2 linked regions of the Homo sapiens genome follow. The protein of the gene in region 1 interacts with the protein of each later gene in a biochemical or structural test. Each region holds a gene or a part of one and is shown on either strand. Other genes may lie near its edges.

Region 1 (7,029 bases):
AAGGTCCAGAATCTATATTTTGTTCCCTCCTTTTTCCAGTGAACCTCCAGTGGGGTCCAACCTTGGCTCCTTTCTCCCCACTTGGAGGATGAGACCAGAGTGAGTACCAACTGCCATCAGATTTTAGGTCAGGCACAAGGAAGACCCTTTTGTTGGCGAAGTTGCATTGAACTTCTACAGTATGTAGAAATCAATTTGTTATCTTAACTTTTTGTAACATCTTCATGAAAGAAGTGGATAATGAAGGCTTGGGTACTGGAGAGAGTTGGAGCATTTGTTTATTTTCTTTTCTTTTTTGGGGCGGTTGGGGGGTGGGCAGCGGGGACAGAGTCTCTCTGAATCACCGAGGCTGGAATGCAGTGGCACGACTTCGGCTCACTGCAACCTCCATCTCCCAGGTTCAAGCCATTCTCATGCTTCAGACTCCCAAGTAGCTGGGACTACAGGCATGTACTACCACACCAGGCTAATTTTTATATTTTTAGTAGAGGCAGGCTTTCACCACGTTGGCCAGGCTGGTCTCAAACTCCTGACCTCAACTGATCCATCCGCCTCAGCCTCCCAAAGTGCTGGGATTACAGGCGTGAGTCACTGCGCCTGGCTGGAGCATTTGTTTTCAAAAGCTATGGTTCTGGGAAGGAAGGAAAGAGCTGGACTGTCCAAAATAGCTAGGCCCCAGTGAACAGAGAAAGAGGGAAGAGGCCTGAAGAGGGCTGGTGGGCTGGTGGTACCCTGCTCATGTGCAATATCTTGACACATGCCAGAACCTTCTTCAAAGCCAAACTGGATTCCTGGAACCAAACTCTCCCTGCCATGGCCTTAGGAGCCAGGACAAAGCTCTAGGTATCCAAGTGATGTAGTGGGCAGTGAGCAGTGGAGCCCACCTGCCTTTGAGGGCCCACGTAAGCTTGGAGCCAAGAACTTCAGCAGCAATAAGAGACAAAGACCTGCAACATACTCCATATTTCTGGACTACATAAGCCCCTTGACTACATAAGCCCCTTGAACTCTTATATCTATCTTAAGGAGAAGAAGGGCTCCCCTACCAGGATGTAAAGCCTGACACTGACATTGGATTTCTCACCAGCCCTGCCAAGAGGAAGGCTTGGAGCTAGGGGTAACTTGTCATGCAAAAATTGAGTTTGAATACATTGTCTTATACCTGGGATCATGGAACAAAATTCACACCCACTGTAGTCCTGGTATGGACACAGACCAGGCTTCACACTTTACGAATGCATTCACGTGTAATTCTCACTCACAATAGTGAGAATTCTCACGTCTGCCCCAACTTCTAAAATATCTGGAGAGAGAGGTATGAGACTCCTCTTTTGTCCCCTCATTACTTTCTGGCAGAACTACTGGAGCTATTACAGGCCTTTCTTCTGGCTTAAAGTAGAAGCTTTTAAGTCCCCAGGGGCACTGAACTCCCTTCCTTACTTGGTAAACCCAGAAGAATAGCACCACAAAGACCTTCTTTCTCTCCTTTTCATAACAGGGCCATTATCCTCAAGAATGAAGCCAAGTTGGTTTTTTTTGTTGTTGTTGTTGTTTTTTCTCCTTTGATAAAGGCTCTGGTCCGGCCATCCCCCTTTTGAATTGATGGAAGATGCTGGAAAGGAGCCCAGTGTGGGTTGACCCAGCAAACAGGGGAACAGTCACTCACTTTGGGGGGGACAGGACACACGATTGCCAGTGGAAAAACCTCTGCCAAAGCCTTACAGTTTTGTTCAAGCTGCCATTCAATTTATATTTTAAATCTTCAATCCTTGTAGATTGAATTCCCCCGGAAAAGAGTTCAATCTGCCCCTCAGGACATTATTTCGTCCATTGTCCCAATGGCTCTACCAGATGAGATGATCCACATCTCCAATGAGAAAAGTGAGAATGAACAAGTTCATGGACTTCTAAAACATGGTCCCCGGAGGCAGCAAGAATACCTAGCCCGTTACTGTCCGTTTCCCCTTCACTGAGCATTTTCTCTTGGGGTGCAATCTGCTATTCTCTCTAAGGTCTTAGAACAATTTAAATACAAGGATGTACCTTAATTAATTCCCATACATCAGTTTGGAGGTAACGAGTAGCAGTTAAAAAACCAAGGAGAAGCTTCCATTTGTGATAAGGGTAATTATTGGTCTGATCCTCTAAACTCTTTCAAGCCAGCTTTAGGGGAAACAAAACTTAGTGGTGGTAATTACTAAGGAAATCTTGCTAGAGTGATTTCAGGGCATTATGAAGCAAATGAGGCACTCATTCCCTGAGCAATACTTCCCAGTCCCCAATATTTTCATCAAGCAAATATCTCCATAATAGCCATTTGGCTGAAAGAGACCCTCACTTCTCTGTAAACTAAGCAGCAGGCAGCCAGCAATTACAGATAATTCCACTTGCCTTTTCTTGGTGGTTTCCTGAGGTTCAATAGCTTTGGCCAGCATGTCCTTATAGATCGGAGATTTTAAATAGCGAGCATAAGAATCCTAGTGGGAACAAGAAAACAACAGTAATTATGAGAGAAAAAAGCAGTCAAATCAAACCAATACCCTTGCCATTTTCAAGCCTCCCTTGGCAGTAGAATGGAAAAGTTATGAGAATTTGTCTCCTTGGGTGAAAGGTGTTGGGGGAGGTGTTGAGAGCAGTGGTTCTCAAGTGTGGTCCCCTCCAGAAGCATCAATTTCACCTGGGAACTTCTCAGGCCTGCCCCAGCCGTCCTGATGAGAAACTCTGGGAGTGATTCACCCTGAGCCTGAACAGTCTCAGGTTTTACAGCTCACAGCTTCAGATCCTATCAACATTGTCTGTGATTCAGCCTATGTTGTAAATGTAGCCAGTTGCATAAAAGCTGCTACAGTTAAAAGTACACTAGACCCAGAACTGCTTAATTTGTTTCACTTATTCTCATATGCTGCATGCTACATGCCAAACAGGTGAGACAGCTGGTCATGTATGGAGACATTGCCTGTCATCATTTGTTCACATGAGGACACCTAAACAATTAACAATTAACAACTACCTGAACAGTCTCCAGGTAATTCTGCTGCACCTTTAAGTTTGAGAATTACAGTCTGTAACCCTACACATGAAGATCCACCTTGGAGTGGTTCAGTGAAGCCAGCATGAGACAAGAGCACATCTGACCTCTCCTCTCCAAGACTTTCTTCCAAGGAAGATGAGCAGCCAGGAGTATGGAGCCCACTTCTAAGCCATTGACATCCCTTTCTGCCCTGTGTTTTGGGTGTAAAGGCAAGAGAATACCAAAGCAAAAACAAAAACAACCAACGCGTAGAGTCCAGTTATGGGGCTGTTTACTGGGACTCTGGGCAATTTCAGAGAAGCTTCATGAATGCTCGTTACTTTTAAGCGAGCGGAAAACTCTAGTCATACCCAATATGGGACAAAGGCCACTGCAACAAACCAGGGATTGAGGTATTTTAAAAATTTATTGAAATGGCACTATTCTAAAGACTAAGTGGGAGCAGTAAAAGTTATGAGAACTAGGATAGAGTCTAGGAATAGGGACCATGGAGCCACTGGGATACGTTGAGTGTTTCACCATAGGACATAGCTGTAATGGCATATAGGGAGTCCAGTGGGCATATATGCCATTCTTTTCTGCAGTTACCAATGACTGTTCCATTCTGGCTAGTAACTGGCCTCCCTGGGCATCCCCTAAAAAGCCGTATGAAAACTACAGGTTTTTTTGTTTGTTTGTTTGTTTGTTTTTTGAGACGGAGTTTCACTCTTTCGCCCAGGCCGGATTGCAGTGGCACGATCTCAACTCACTGCAACCTCCACCTCCCAGGTTCAAGTGATTCTCCTGCCTCAGCCTCCTGGGTAGCAAGATTACAGGCATCCACCACCACGCCCAGCTAATTTTTGTATTTTTGGTAGAGACGGGGTTTCACCATGTTGGCCAGGCTGGTCTCAAACTCCCGACCTCGTGATCTGCCCACCTCAGCCTTCCAAAGTACTGGGATTACAGGCGTGAGCCACTGCGCCCAGCCGAAAACTACATTTTTAAGAACCAAAACGTTTTAAAATACATTAAAGAGGATTATTATTAAAGAAACCCTGCTGTGAATCGTCTAGTAACAAAAACAAAGAGACAGCCACTGATTCAAAACACACAGAAACACCCCACTGATTCAAAAAATGATGAAAATGGCTAATCTGGCTTGGCGGCAATTCTAAATTATTACATGCTTTAAAAACAAAGTAAAAATACTTTTAAATGATACAATAAAAGACTAAATAGAAGAAATATAAATCAGGAAAGCTAATCAGCATTTACCATTCACACAAACCTATATACATAACCTATATCATATAACCTATATCACATAACCTATATCACACAGCCTATATCACATAGCCTATATCATATAAACCACATCATATAACCTATCTCATATAACCCACATCATGTAACCTACATCATATAATCTATATCATATAACCTATATCACATAACCTATATCAGATAGCCTATATCACACAACCTATATTATATAACCTATATCACATAACTGATACCACATAATCTATATCACATAACCAATATCACATAACCTATATCATATAATCTATATCATATAACCTATATTACATAATCTATATCACATAACCTATATCATATAATGTATATCATATAACCTATATCACATGACCTACATCAGATAGCCTATAACACATTACAATCTATAACATATAACTCATATCATATAATCTATCTCATATAGCCTATATCACATAACCTATATCAGATAGCCTATATCACATTATAACCTATATCATATAACCTACATCATGTAACCTATGTCATATAATCTCATATAACCTATATCATATAACCTATATCAAATAGCCTATATCACATAACCTATATCATATAACCTGTATGACATAGTCTATCTCATATAAGCTATATCACGCAACCTATGTCATATAATCTATCTCATATAACCTATATCAGATGGTCTATATCACATAACCTGTATCACATAACCAATATCCATAACCTATATCACATAATCTATCTCATATAACCTATATCACATAACCTATATCAAATAGCCTATATCACATAACCTATATCCTATAAAGATACTTTGCCCTTAAAGAAATCATTGCCATAATGAGAAGTTGAAGCACCCAAAGAAAGTCTTGTCAAGGATGGCACCAAAGAAGAATCAAACTAGACAAGTTCTTTAAGGCTAACTCTGAGCCTCCGATTCTAGTTTCTTAAGAAAATGATTGATTTTTCTCTCAGGTACCCTTCACATATTTTTTTTTAAATTCCCACCGCATTCGCACTTTGTTAATAATCCAGAGGGCTATCTAAATTCTCACAGGGTCTTACTACAATCACACACACACAAATTTGTCTCTCCTAGACACTACGCCTCTATGTGTAATATTTGCCTGGGGCCAGGGTGGTGAGAATTGCCATCACTCTGCAGCAGAAACTAAGAGCTCGGCCTTGAAACCCAGGCAGACCTGGCTATGAATCCCAGCCCCATCTCTGGTGAGACCTTGACCAAGCCACTAGATTCTGGAGCAGCAAAGCCTAACTTGTGGGCTGTCTTTGAGCATAAAGTTCTGTGTTTCGCACAGCGACTGCACCTTGTAAGCCCTCAACGAATGATGGCTGTTATTATAATGTTGTCATTACTAATGCCATTACTCCTACCTGTCTACTGCTGCAGAGTGGGGCCCGTAAGGATGCACACAGCTTCTACAGGAGTTCCTCTAGGCCCGTGGGTGAGGGGCTCAAGGCAAGTCCACCCCAGTGGACAGGTGGAAGAGACGGTTGACAATTCTGGGGTTTTTCTCTTTCTCTCTCTTTCTTTTTTATATAAAGACAGGGTCTCACTGTGTTGCCCAGGCTGGTCTCAAACTTCTGGGCTCAAGATATCCTCCCATCTCAGCTTCCCAAAGAGCTGGGATTACAGACATGAGCCCCCATGCTTAGCTGCATGCCACAACCGGCAAAGCTCTATCCACGTATCCTCTCTCTTTTTCCTATATCTAAAGAATTTTCCGGGTACTTAGTGACAGAAAGCCTATCTGGACCCCGTATCCACAGCACGGACCCACCTACCTTCTTCATGAGCATGTAAATGTGGGTTTGTGCGGCGTCCAGCACATAGCGGTGGGGGTGCTTCAGCCCCTTCACTGTGATGTCCATGGTTTTGCCATCTATGTTGATCCAGCGCCTCGCCCCCGGGGCCAGGAACAGCCTGGGGTGGGAGGGAGATGTTAGCAAAAGTAACTAAACCAAGTCAATTCATGGATAGCTCACAGCTGCTTGGGAGGGAAGGACTGATACGAATCGGTTACCGAGGGTGAGGGTGGTGGTTTTTTTAGGAGACACTAAAGAGCATGAACTTTTGAAGAGGTTGTCAAGCAATTTTTCCTTGAAGCAAGAAACTTCCAGTATTGGGAATATGAATATTTAACTTTGATGTTTCCAACCTCCAGGAGAGAGAGCAAGAAGGGGCTGGGGCCCAGGTCGGATTAGGTCCTGGCCATGAGGGTGAAGAACTCAGCCTCCAACTTCACACCTTCTGCACCAGGATTCCAGGGGCAACCTGGGACCAGGCTAAGACACCTTCACACAGGTGTTCTGGGGGTCTCTGCTCTCCTCCCAACCCACATGTGCTTTGTAATGAATTTCACATGCTGTGTCGAGAGGCAGCCCATAGTCCCAGAACCCAGAGGTCTGACCCGCTGGGCAGACAGGCCAAGGCTCCCAATTAGACCAAACTTGGCCACACTTCCTGAGCCCGTGGCTCTACCTGGGATGTCGGGATGCAGAGCTCTCTCAGTATTTCCAGTTCTGAGCTGTTGCTGAATTAGAAATACTCATATGAATATTTTCCTACCTTTCTAAGATGTACATTAAAATTTTGGAATTGAAACTGAGATTTACATAACATAACCAGGGAGCCTGGGGAAGGAAACTGGTCTAATGGCAGAGGCAGCGGGCTTCCTGTAGCAGATTTTTGGAATCAGGAGTTGTGTGTGCGTCAC
Region 2 (7,081 bases), on another chromosome or scaffold:
TGGGAATGTAAAATGATACAGCTGCTGTGGAAAACAGTATGGTAGTACCTCAAAAAATTAGAAACAGAATTACCACATGAACCAGCAATTCCATTTCTGGATATATATCTAAAAGAGCTGAAAACAGGATCTCAAAAAGATATCTGAACACCTATGTTCATAGCAGTGTCATGCACAATAGCTAAAATGTGAAAGTAATTTAAGTGTCATCCATAGATGAACAGAAAAGCAAAATGTGGTACAATTGAATATTATTCAGCCTTGAAAAGAAAGAAAATTCTGACATATACTTCAATATCAATGAATTTTGAGAACATTATGCTAAGTGAAATAAGCCAGTCTGAAAAAGACAAATATAGTAGGATTCCACTTATATGAGGTACTTAGAGAATCGCTTAAACCTGGTAGGCTGAGGTTGCAGGGAGCCGAGATTGCACCACTGCACTGCAGCCTGGGTGACAGACGGAGACTCTGTCTCAAAAAACAGAAAAAGAAAAAAAGAAAAAATTAGATGATGATGGAGGGTAGTAAAAAACAGGAAGAAAATAGGTCGAAAAGTTAAGATAGAAGTAGAAAAGGGAGGTAACATGCAAGCACACAGAAGGGTAGATGCAGATATAAAAAACCACTATCATTTATTTATTTCCTTCCTTACTATTACTCTGCTACCTATAATGAGTGATTTGGTACAAATCTGATTGATTGAGAAGCCTCCTTCTGTTATTTCCTGCCATTCTCTTGTAGAAAGGAAGAAAGTGGTGCTCAATATTAGATAATAATAAGTGAGTTGAACTATTTTTCTTTCAAGAACTGTATTACAGCAGCAGAATGAATTCAAACATAAAACCTAACACTTTCTCAGATGGTTCTCATCTATCACCAGATCTCATTGGAGAGGAACAGGGGCTAAGGTTGAGAAGAAATAACCATACTACTGGACCACTCACTGCATTTGCCAACTTTCATTTACACTTTTACAACTTGAGGTCTGATTCCAGTGAAAAACATACTGAGAGGCTCTTGTTCAGACCAGATCAGTATCATGCAGTTTAAGATCATCATGATAATCAAATCTTCCAGTTCACAGTAAGGAATGCCAGTTATAATAAGACATGGAAACAAAATGTTCCTTTATTCATATAGGTCCTGCAAATTGCCTCCCCATAATGCTTCATTTAGTCTCCATACTGTCCTAGTGAGTGGGAACTCAGTGGGGGTTTAAAGTGGTGTACTCAATGGTCGGTGCTCAAGGCAAGGTTTCTTGTATCATTCCCTGGAACAGCATTTCAAAGACAAGAAGAGAATAGTCCCACCACAAACTTCACATCAATTTCCTTTCAAACAAAATCACTGAGTAACCATATGTATCAGAAGCCCACCATCTCTCTTCTCTTGCTCTAGACTTGCCACTTCAAGTTGAAAACATAAAGACTTTCCCTGATGAAGGGCCATTGGCTAGTACATGAGAATGTTCCAGCCATGCTATTGAGATGGAGTTTCTGGAAGGAAGATGAAAAAAATGATCTATATTTTTCTTGATTTCTGCCCAGGCATATCTCTTCTGTAGGCATCTTGGAGTTCTTCCCAGAAGGCATATCTCAATGCCAATCATGAATAAGGGTTCCACTTACTTAAAAGAATAAAATTGTTTGTTGTTGTATGAATGGGAAGTGCCAGATAAAAGGAGCAATTGCTAATCTTCACCTATAGTGAAGTCCAGAGAGAAAGGATCACTTCATTTACCCTGCTTCTCTTCTATTTCCACACCAATCCCTCCCCATTCACCACGGGGGTCAAGGAGTCTACCAGAGACAGCTAAGTCAGAACAGAGTTGACTGCCTAGATGTGTGATTTTAGGCATGTCAGTTAATTTTCCTGTCTCTTGTTCCTACACAGAATTAGAGTCTATATCACTCTTTATCTTCCTTTTACTTTTGCCAAAGGAAGGCACTAAAAACATGCTGAGGAATATCTTGCCAGCATTTACAACTGCCCTTGAAGAGAGAATATGTGTTCTCAACACAGAAAGTTAGAAATAGGGTTCTTCCTACTACATTCACGCATTATCAAGATAGCATTATCATTAGGCACAATGTCTTCAAATGTTAAAGAAAATAAACATAGGATACTGAAACGTGAAAACCATGTTGCTGAAAATGAGTGATATGAGGTTCTTAACTCCTTAGAAGGCCTTTGCTTCATTCTGCTCACATAACAGCCTGACATTACTCCCTGCTTTTATATGTCAGACAAGCCAAGTTTTAGCAGTGCATATTCTCTTGGTCCCCTTATCCAAGGGAAGAAAAGCCTTGGAGTTCACATTCAACCCAGGAGTTCTAGTCTTAGGGCATGTTCAATATAGTTATGTCATATAACTAATACATTTATGCCCAATAAGTTATGGGCAACCTTGGATATGGAACCTAACCTCTCTAACCCTCTGTATTAGTTTGCTAGGGATGCCATAACAAAATTCCACAGGCTAGGTGAATTAAACAAGAGAAATTTATTTTTGCACAGTTTTGAAGGGTAGAAATCCAAAATCAACAGGGTGGCAGGTTTGGTTTCTCCTGCAAGACCCCTCTCCTTGGCTTGCAGACAGATGCCATCTTCCTGTGTCCTTTCCTCTGTGTGCACATTTCTGGTGCCTCTTCTTTTTCTTATAGGAAACCAGTCATATTGGATTAGGGCGTACCCTCCAGGCCCCATTTTAACTTAACTCACACTTCAAAGATCTTACATCCAAATACAGTCATGTTCTAAGGTTAGGGCTTCAACACTTGAATTTTGGAATGACACAATTTAGTCCATAACAGCCTCTATAAAGATGGCATCATGAAGACTGATGTAATATAATTTACAGAATGATTTCTAAATCATCTAAATGATTTCTAAATATAATTATATACAAATGTATTATTAATATTATTATTACTGTCATAATTATTATTCTCTCTGACATATTATCAGTCTTTTGGGAAGTTTAAATTTTCTTCTTTTGGAAGACTATACCATAGTGGTTAAGAGAATTAGGTTGTTTAGATCCAAATCTTGGGTCAGCCACTTGTTAGCTGTGTGACTTTCAGACATTATACTAACCTCCATAAGCTTTAATTTTCCTATCCATAAATTAAGGATGGTAAAAAATAGTACCTGCCTTGTAGGGTTGTTGAAAGGATTAAAAGGAGCAATGCATTAAAATGACTGGCTAAAAGTACATGCTCAATAAATGATGGTTGTTATCAATAGCAGTATTTAGACCTTGTTGATGCTGCTGCCTTCTTTCTCAGCCAGCAGAGGTCTCCATCATAGTCAAACAAGAGCTAGCTTCCCTATAACTGCACCGCAGTTGCCAAGCACATCCACTGTTGGCAGAGAAAACAGCCGAAGAATTACCACACTGACCAAACAGAGGAGAAAAAAAAGAGAGAGAGAACAGGAAATGGTTAGGATGCCACAGTAAAATGTAAGATGAACAGGTGACCATAAGTTAGGATTGTTTATGTTCTACTGCTGACTTTCACTGATATTGTCCTTGGTTGCATCTCACTTTAGCTTGTTCCAAACCAGTTTTAAAAAAGGTATCTATGTATATATCACAGAGAAGCAGTAAGAATGAATTGGCAAATATTTATGAAGTCCTCTGAAAACAAGAAGTGCTGCTAAGTAAACATTTAACATTTCTTACAGTATTAAGCTTATTTCATCCTTATTGCCAGTTATACGCCATGCCTCAGTTTTGCTACCTTTGTAATATGTTTCCTTTAACCTTCTTTTCCCAGACAGGCTTACACCTCCAAGTTCAATTATCCTGTCAATTGTGTTTTAAATTGTACTGATTTCCATTAACCAATTGTGGTATCAATTTGATGATCTGTTCCTTCTGAACTAATCATCTTTACACCCACCAAAATCTGGAAAGGCAATTAAACTGAGGAAGGTGAGAGTTATTCAAGAGAAATTAAAGCATAAAGGTAAAAACAGTGGAAAAACTAAGATTAAAAAGAGCACTGAGGAGAAAATATACATGTACTAAAAAGCACAGTATCCGAGCAGATAGAGAGACAAAGAGGAAAAGAGAGCGAGGTAGAAAACGGATACTGCCTATGCCTACTCCATCCCTCTTTCAGCACCAAGGACAGAACCTCTGAGCGGCTGACCCAAGCAACGCTCAGTTTAGGGTCCCTCCCAAATCCTCTAAAGAAAACGGATACATTCGAAAGCAGCTATGAAACATGCACTAAGGTCTAATAGGGAAGCTGGAAAAGCAGCACTCAAGTAATTTCACCTTAGAGGCAAAAATGGGTGATTTCTTTCTGTTCATTTCATAGTTTCTGAGTCCTGAGAAAGGCAAAGTTTGCTTTGCTTGGGTATGTCTGCTGTCAGTAAATGGCTGCAGGAGCCGAAGTGGTAAACTCCTCGGTCTCCAGAAATCAGAAGAAAATTTTAGGGTAAGTAATTTTTCTTTTCGTTTCTAATTTAGGACATAGTATTTTCCTCAAGGTTATTTAATCAGCTTGGGGTTCTGTGGATCTCTAAAAATATGCATTAAAACTCAATATCCACTCTTATTTAAAAACCAAAGCCCTGAGGAAATGGTTTTCTTTTTCTTCTAAGTGGTTGGACAGCAGAAACCTTTTATATTCCTTTTTCTTTTATTTTTTCCCCCAAAATTGTATCCTTGTGGGCTCTAGAAGCTATATCAAGGAAGAATTAAAAGATAGAAAACAAAAAGCTGTTATTATTTCTAGGATTTGTATGGAAGTTGATTGTATTCCTCTTAAGGATTTTACTTAATTGTAAGGGTCTGTTATTTTAAACTCCTCAATTCAGCACCCTGGCAATTCAGAGCTGAAGGTTTGGAGAGGCACTATTTTCAATGGTCTATTTAAAGTCAGGCTGTTTCTAAGTCAGAATCCAATTATTCCCAGCAGAGATATGTAGTACTTGAGATGATGATTGTGTATGTTTCCTTTGATGATGGTATATGATTTTTAGGGTATTGTTATTTAATTGTGAGACTTCCATTACTTGCTGTAGCTTACTGGGGCAACAGAAGTCATTGCAATTAGGTATTTGTTCCAGTTCATGCATTTAGTTTAATTGAATACCATCAAAATACATGCATGAATAATAATGCAGCAATAGCAAAGTGAAACTTGGATTCTAAACTCATTGTGCATGACTATTTCACTTTATAGGTGAAGCCTTTGCTTACTGATACTAAAAGGTCTGTAAAATATCTGTCCTTAGATAAGAGTGAAGAACCACTGCTTGACATGGCATTAGGATGTCTTATAGTCAAGGAGAAGTAGAGACAATGTGAGAAAGATTCTTACTCGGCACTCATTTATTTGTAGTTGAATATTTTCAAGGGTCTGTATGGCTAGCAGTGAGCAAGGGTATTGAGCAAGGAAAATACTGACAGTATCCAAATGGGTGCCTAATATTAAAGCATCCATACAGAAGGCTATTTGTTATGGAATATACATTAAAGCAAATACCGAACAGTTTCTACTCAATATCAGATTCAATTTCTAATGCATTGAAGTTTGTCATCAATTAATATTTGCTTATTGATTGATTTATTTGCTGAGTTCCCCATTTTATCTCTGATTAGAATGGTAGGATGCTCAGTCTCTAGAGGTTGTGAAGGAAAGTGAGTATGCTCTGCTTTACTAGTCAGGTTTAATGAGGGGAAAAAACTGTTATCTTAGCTACTCAGTAACCAGCAATAGTTTTTCTCTGTACATTTACCAACAATGTAAATGTGCCCAAATACATAAATATGCTATGTATTGCAATCCATTTGTGAATCTTTTTCAGGAAAATAGGCAGCAATTTGCAAGAAGAAAGTAGCATAGAAATGCTAAAGACTATCTCTAATAATAATAACAATGTAACTCCCACTGGCTCTATGAGCAGTGTGCACCTGCATTACTTCACCAAGCCTAGTCAGATGATGTGACATGTTCACATACTCTGAACAAGTGAGATTGTAAAATTAGTACCCATTTCACATTTGTCTGCCTCACCCCAAAAAGTGGCATAGTTAAGTGGCATAGTTAAGAACATGAGCTCTGGAATCAGACAAATCTTGGGTTGAATCAACTCCATCATTTACTGGTTTGTGATCTCAGCAAGATATTTAACCTCTCTGTGACTCACCTTTTTTATCTAGAAAACTTGATAGGATAATAGTGCTTACCTTCTTCATCAGGTTGTTGTGAGGTTGAATGATGATAATGCTTATAAATTTTAGCTATAATTATTAATTTTATCAGGCAATATAGCAAGTCCGAATTACAGCCCAGACCAGAAAAGCTCTGGCGACTGGTGGTCAGGAGTCGTCTGAGTAAAAGATTAGATGTAGCAACAGCCAGAGATCTGTGAAATGAGTGAAGATGTGGTCATGGAACCCTGTTACTGAAGCGTTTTGTTCTGGGTTGAGTAAAATCCATCTCAACTCGGGAATGACAGTTTTGTGGGTTTTTTTTTACTTTGAGACAGGATCTTGCTCTGTCACCCAGGCTGGAGTGCAGTGGCACAATTATAGTTCACTGCAGCCTCTAACTCCTGGACTCAAGCAATCTTCCTGCCTCAGTCTTTCGAGTAGCTGGGAATACAGGCACATGGCATCACACGCAGCTAATTTTTCTTTTCTTTTATTTTTGCAAAGATGGAGTCTCACTATGTTGCCCAGGCTGATCTCAAACTCCTGGCCTCAAGTGATCCTTCCATCTCAGCCTCCCAAAGTGCTGGGATTACAGGAATGAGCCCCCAAGCAGGGCTGGGAATGACTAACGTCAACTTCCATGCTGCTATAAGTATTAAAATGCATGTAAAGTACTCATACTTGCCACACAGTAGTAGCCCAGATGTAGTTGTCTTCATCTTCATTTGTTTTCTTACAGAAAGAGAACAAATAATTAAAACTCTGTAAGTCTTAATGAGGTGCTAAGGAGGAACCCCACGAATGTTTCAGGAAGACTGTTATTCAGCACTGAGGGATTGAACATCAGCAAAGCAGGACAAATGTCATAACTGATGGGGACCTGACAACTCTCTGTTCCCCTGCCTT

Evidence for each region.
Region 2: the proteins of RGS9 (region 1) and DRD3 form a complex in vitro, tested with the Homo sapiens proteins (one study listed by BioGRID).

The regions. Positions count from the first base shown.
Region 1 is NC_000017.11:65,203,370-65,210,398, reverse strand, and holds part of RGS9 (regulator of G-protein signaling 9), read right to left. Parts: intron 6,237-7,029; coding exon 6,098-6,236; intron 2,478-6,097; coding exon 2,392-2,477; intron 1-2,391. UniProt on the Homo sapiens protein: Inhibits signal transduction by increasing the GTPase activity of G protein alpha subunits thereby driving them into their inactive GDP-bound form. Binds to GNAT1. Involved in phototransduction; key element in the recovery phase of visual transduction.
Region 2 is NC_000003.12:114,176,027-114,183,107, reverse strand, and holds the start of DRD3 (D(3) dopamine receptor), read left to right. Parts: upstream 1-4,055; 5' UTR 4,056-4,451; intron 4,452-6,914; exon of another isoform or gene 6,915-7,081. UniProt on the Homo sapiens protein: Dopamine receptor whose activity is mediated by G proteins which inhibit adenylyl cyclase. Promotes cell proliferation.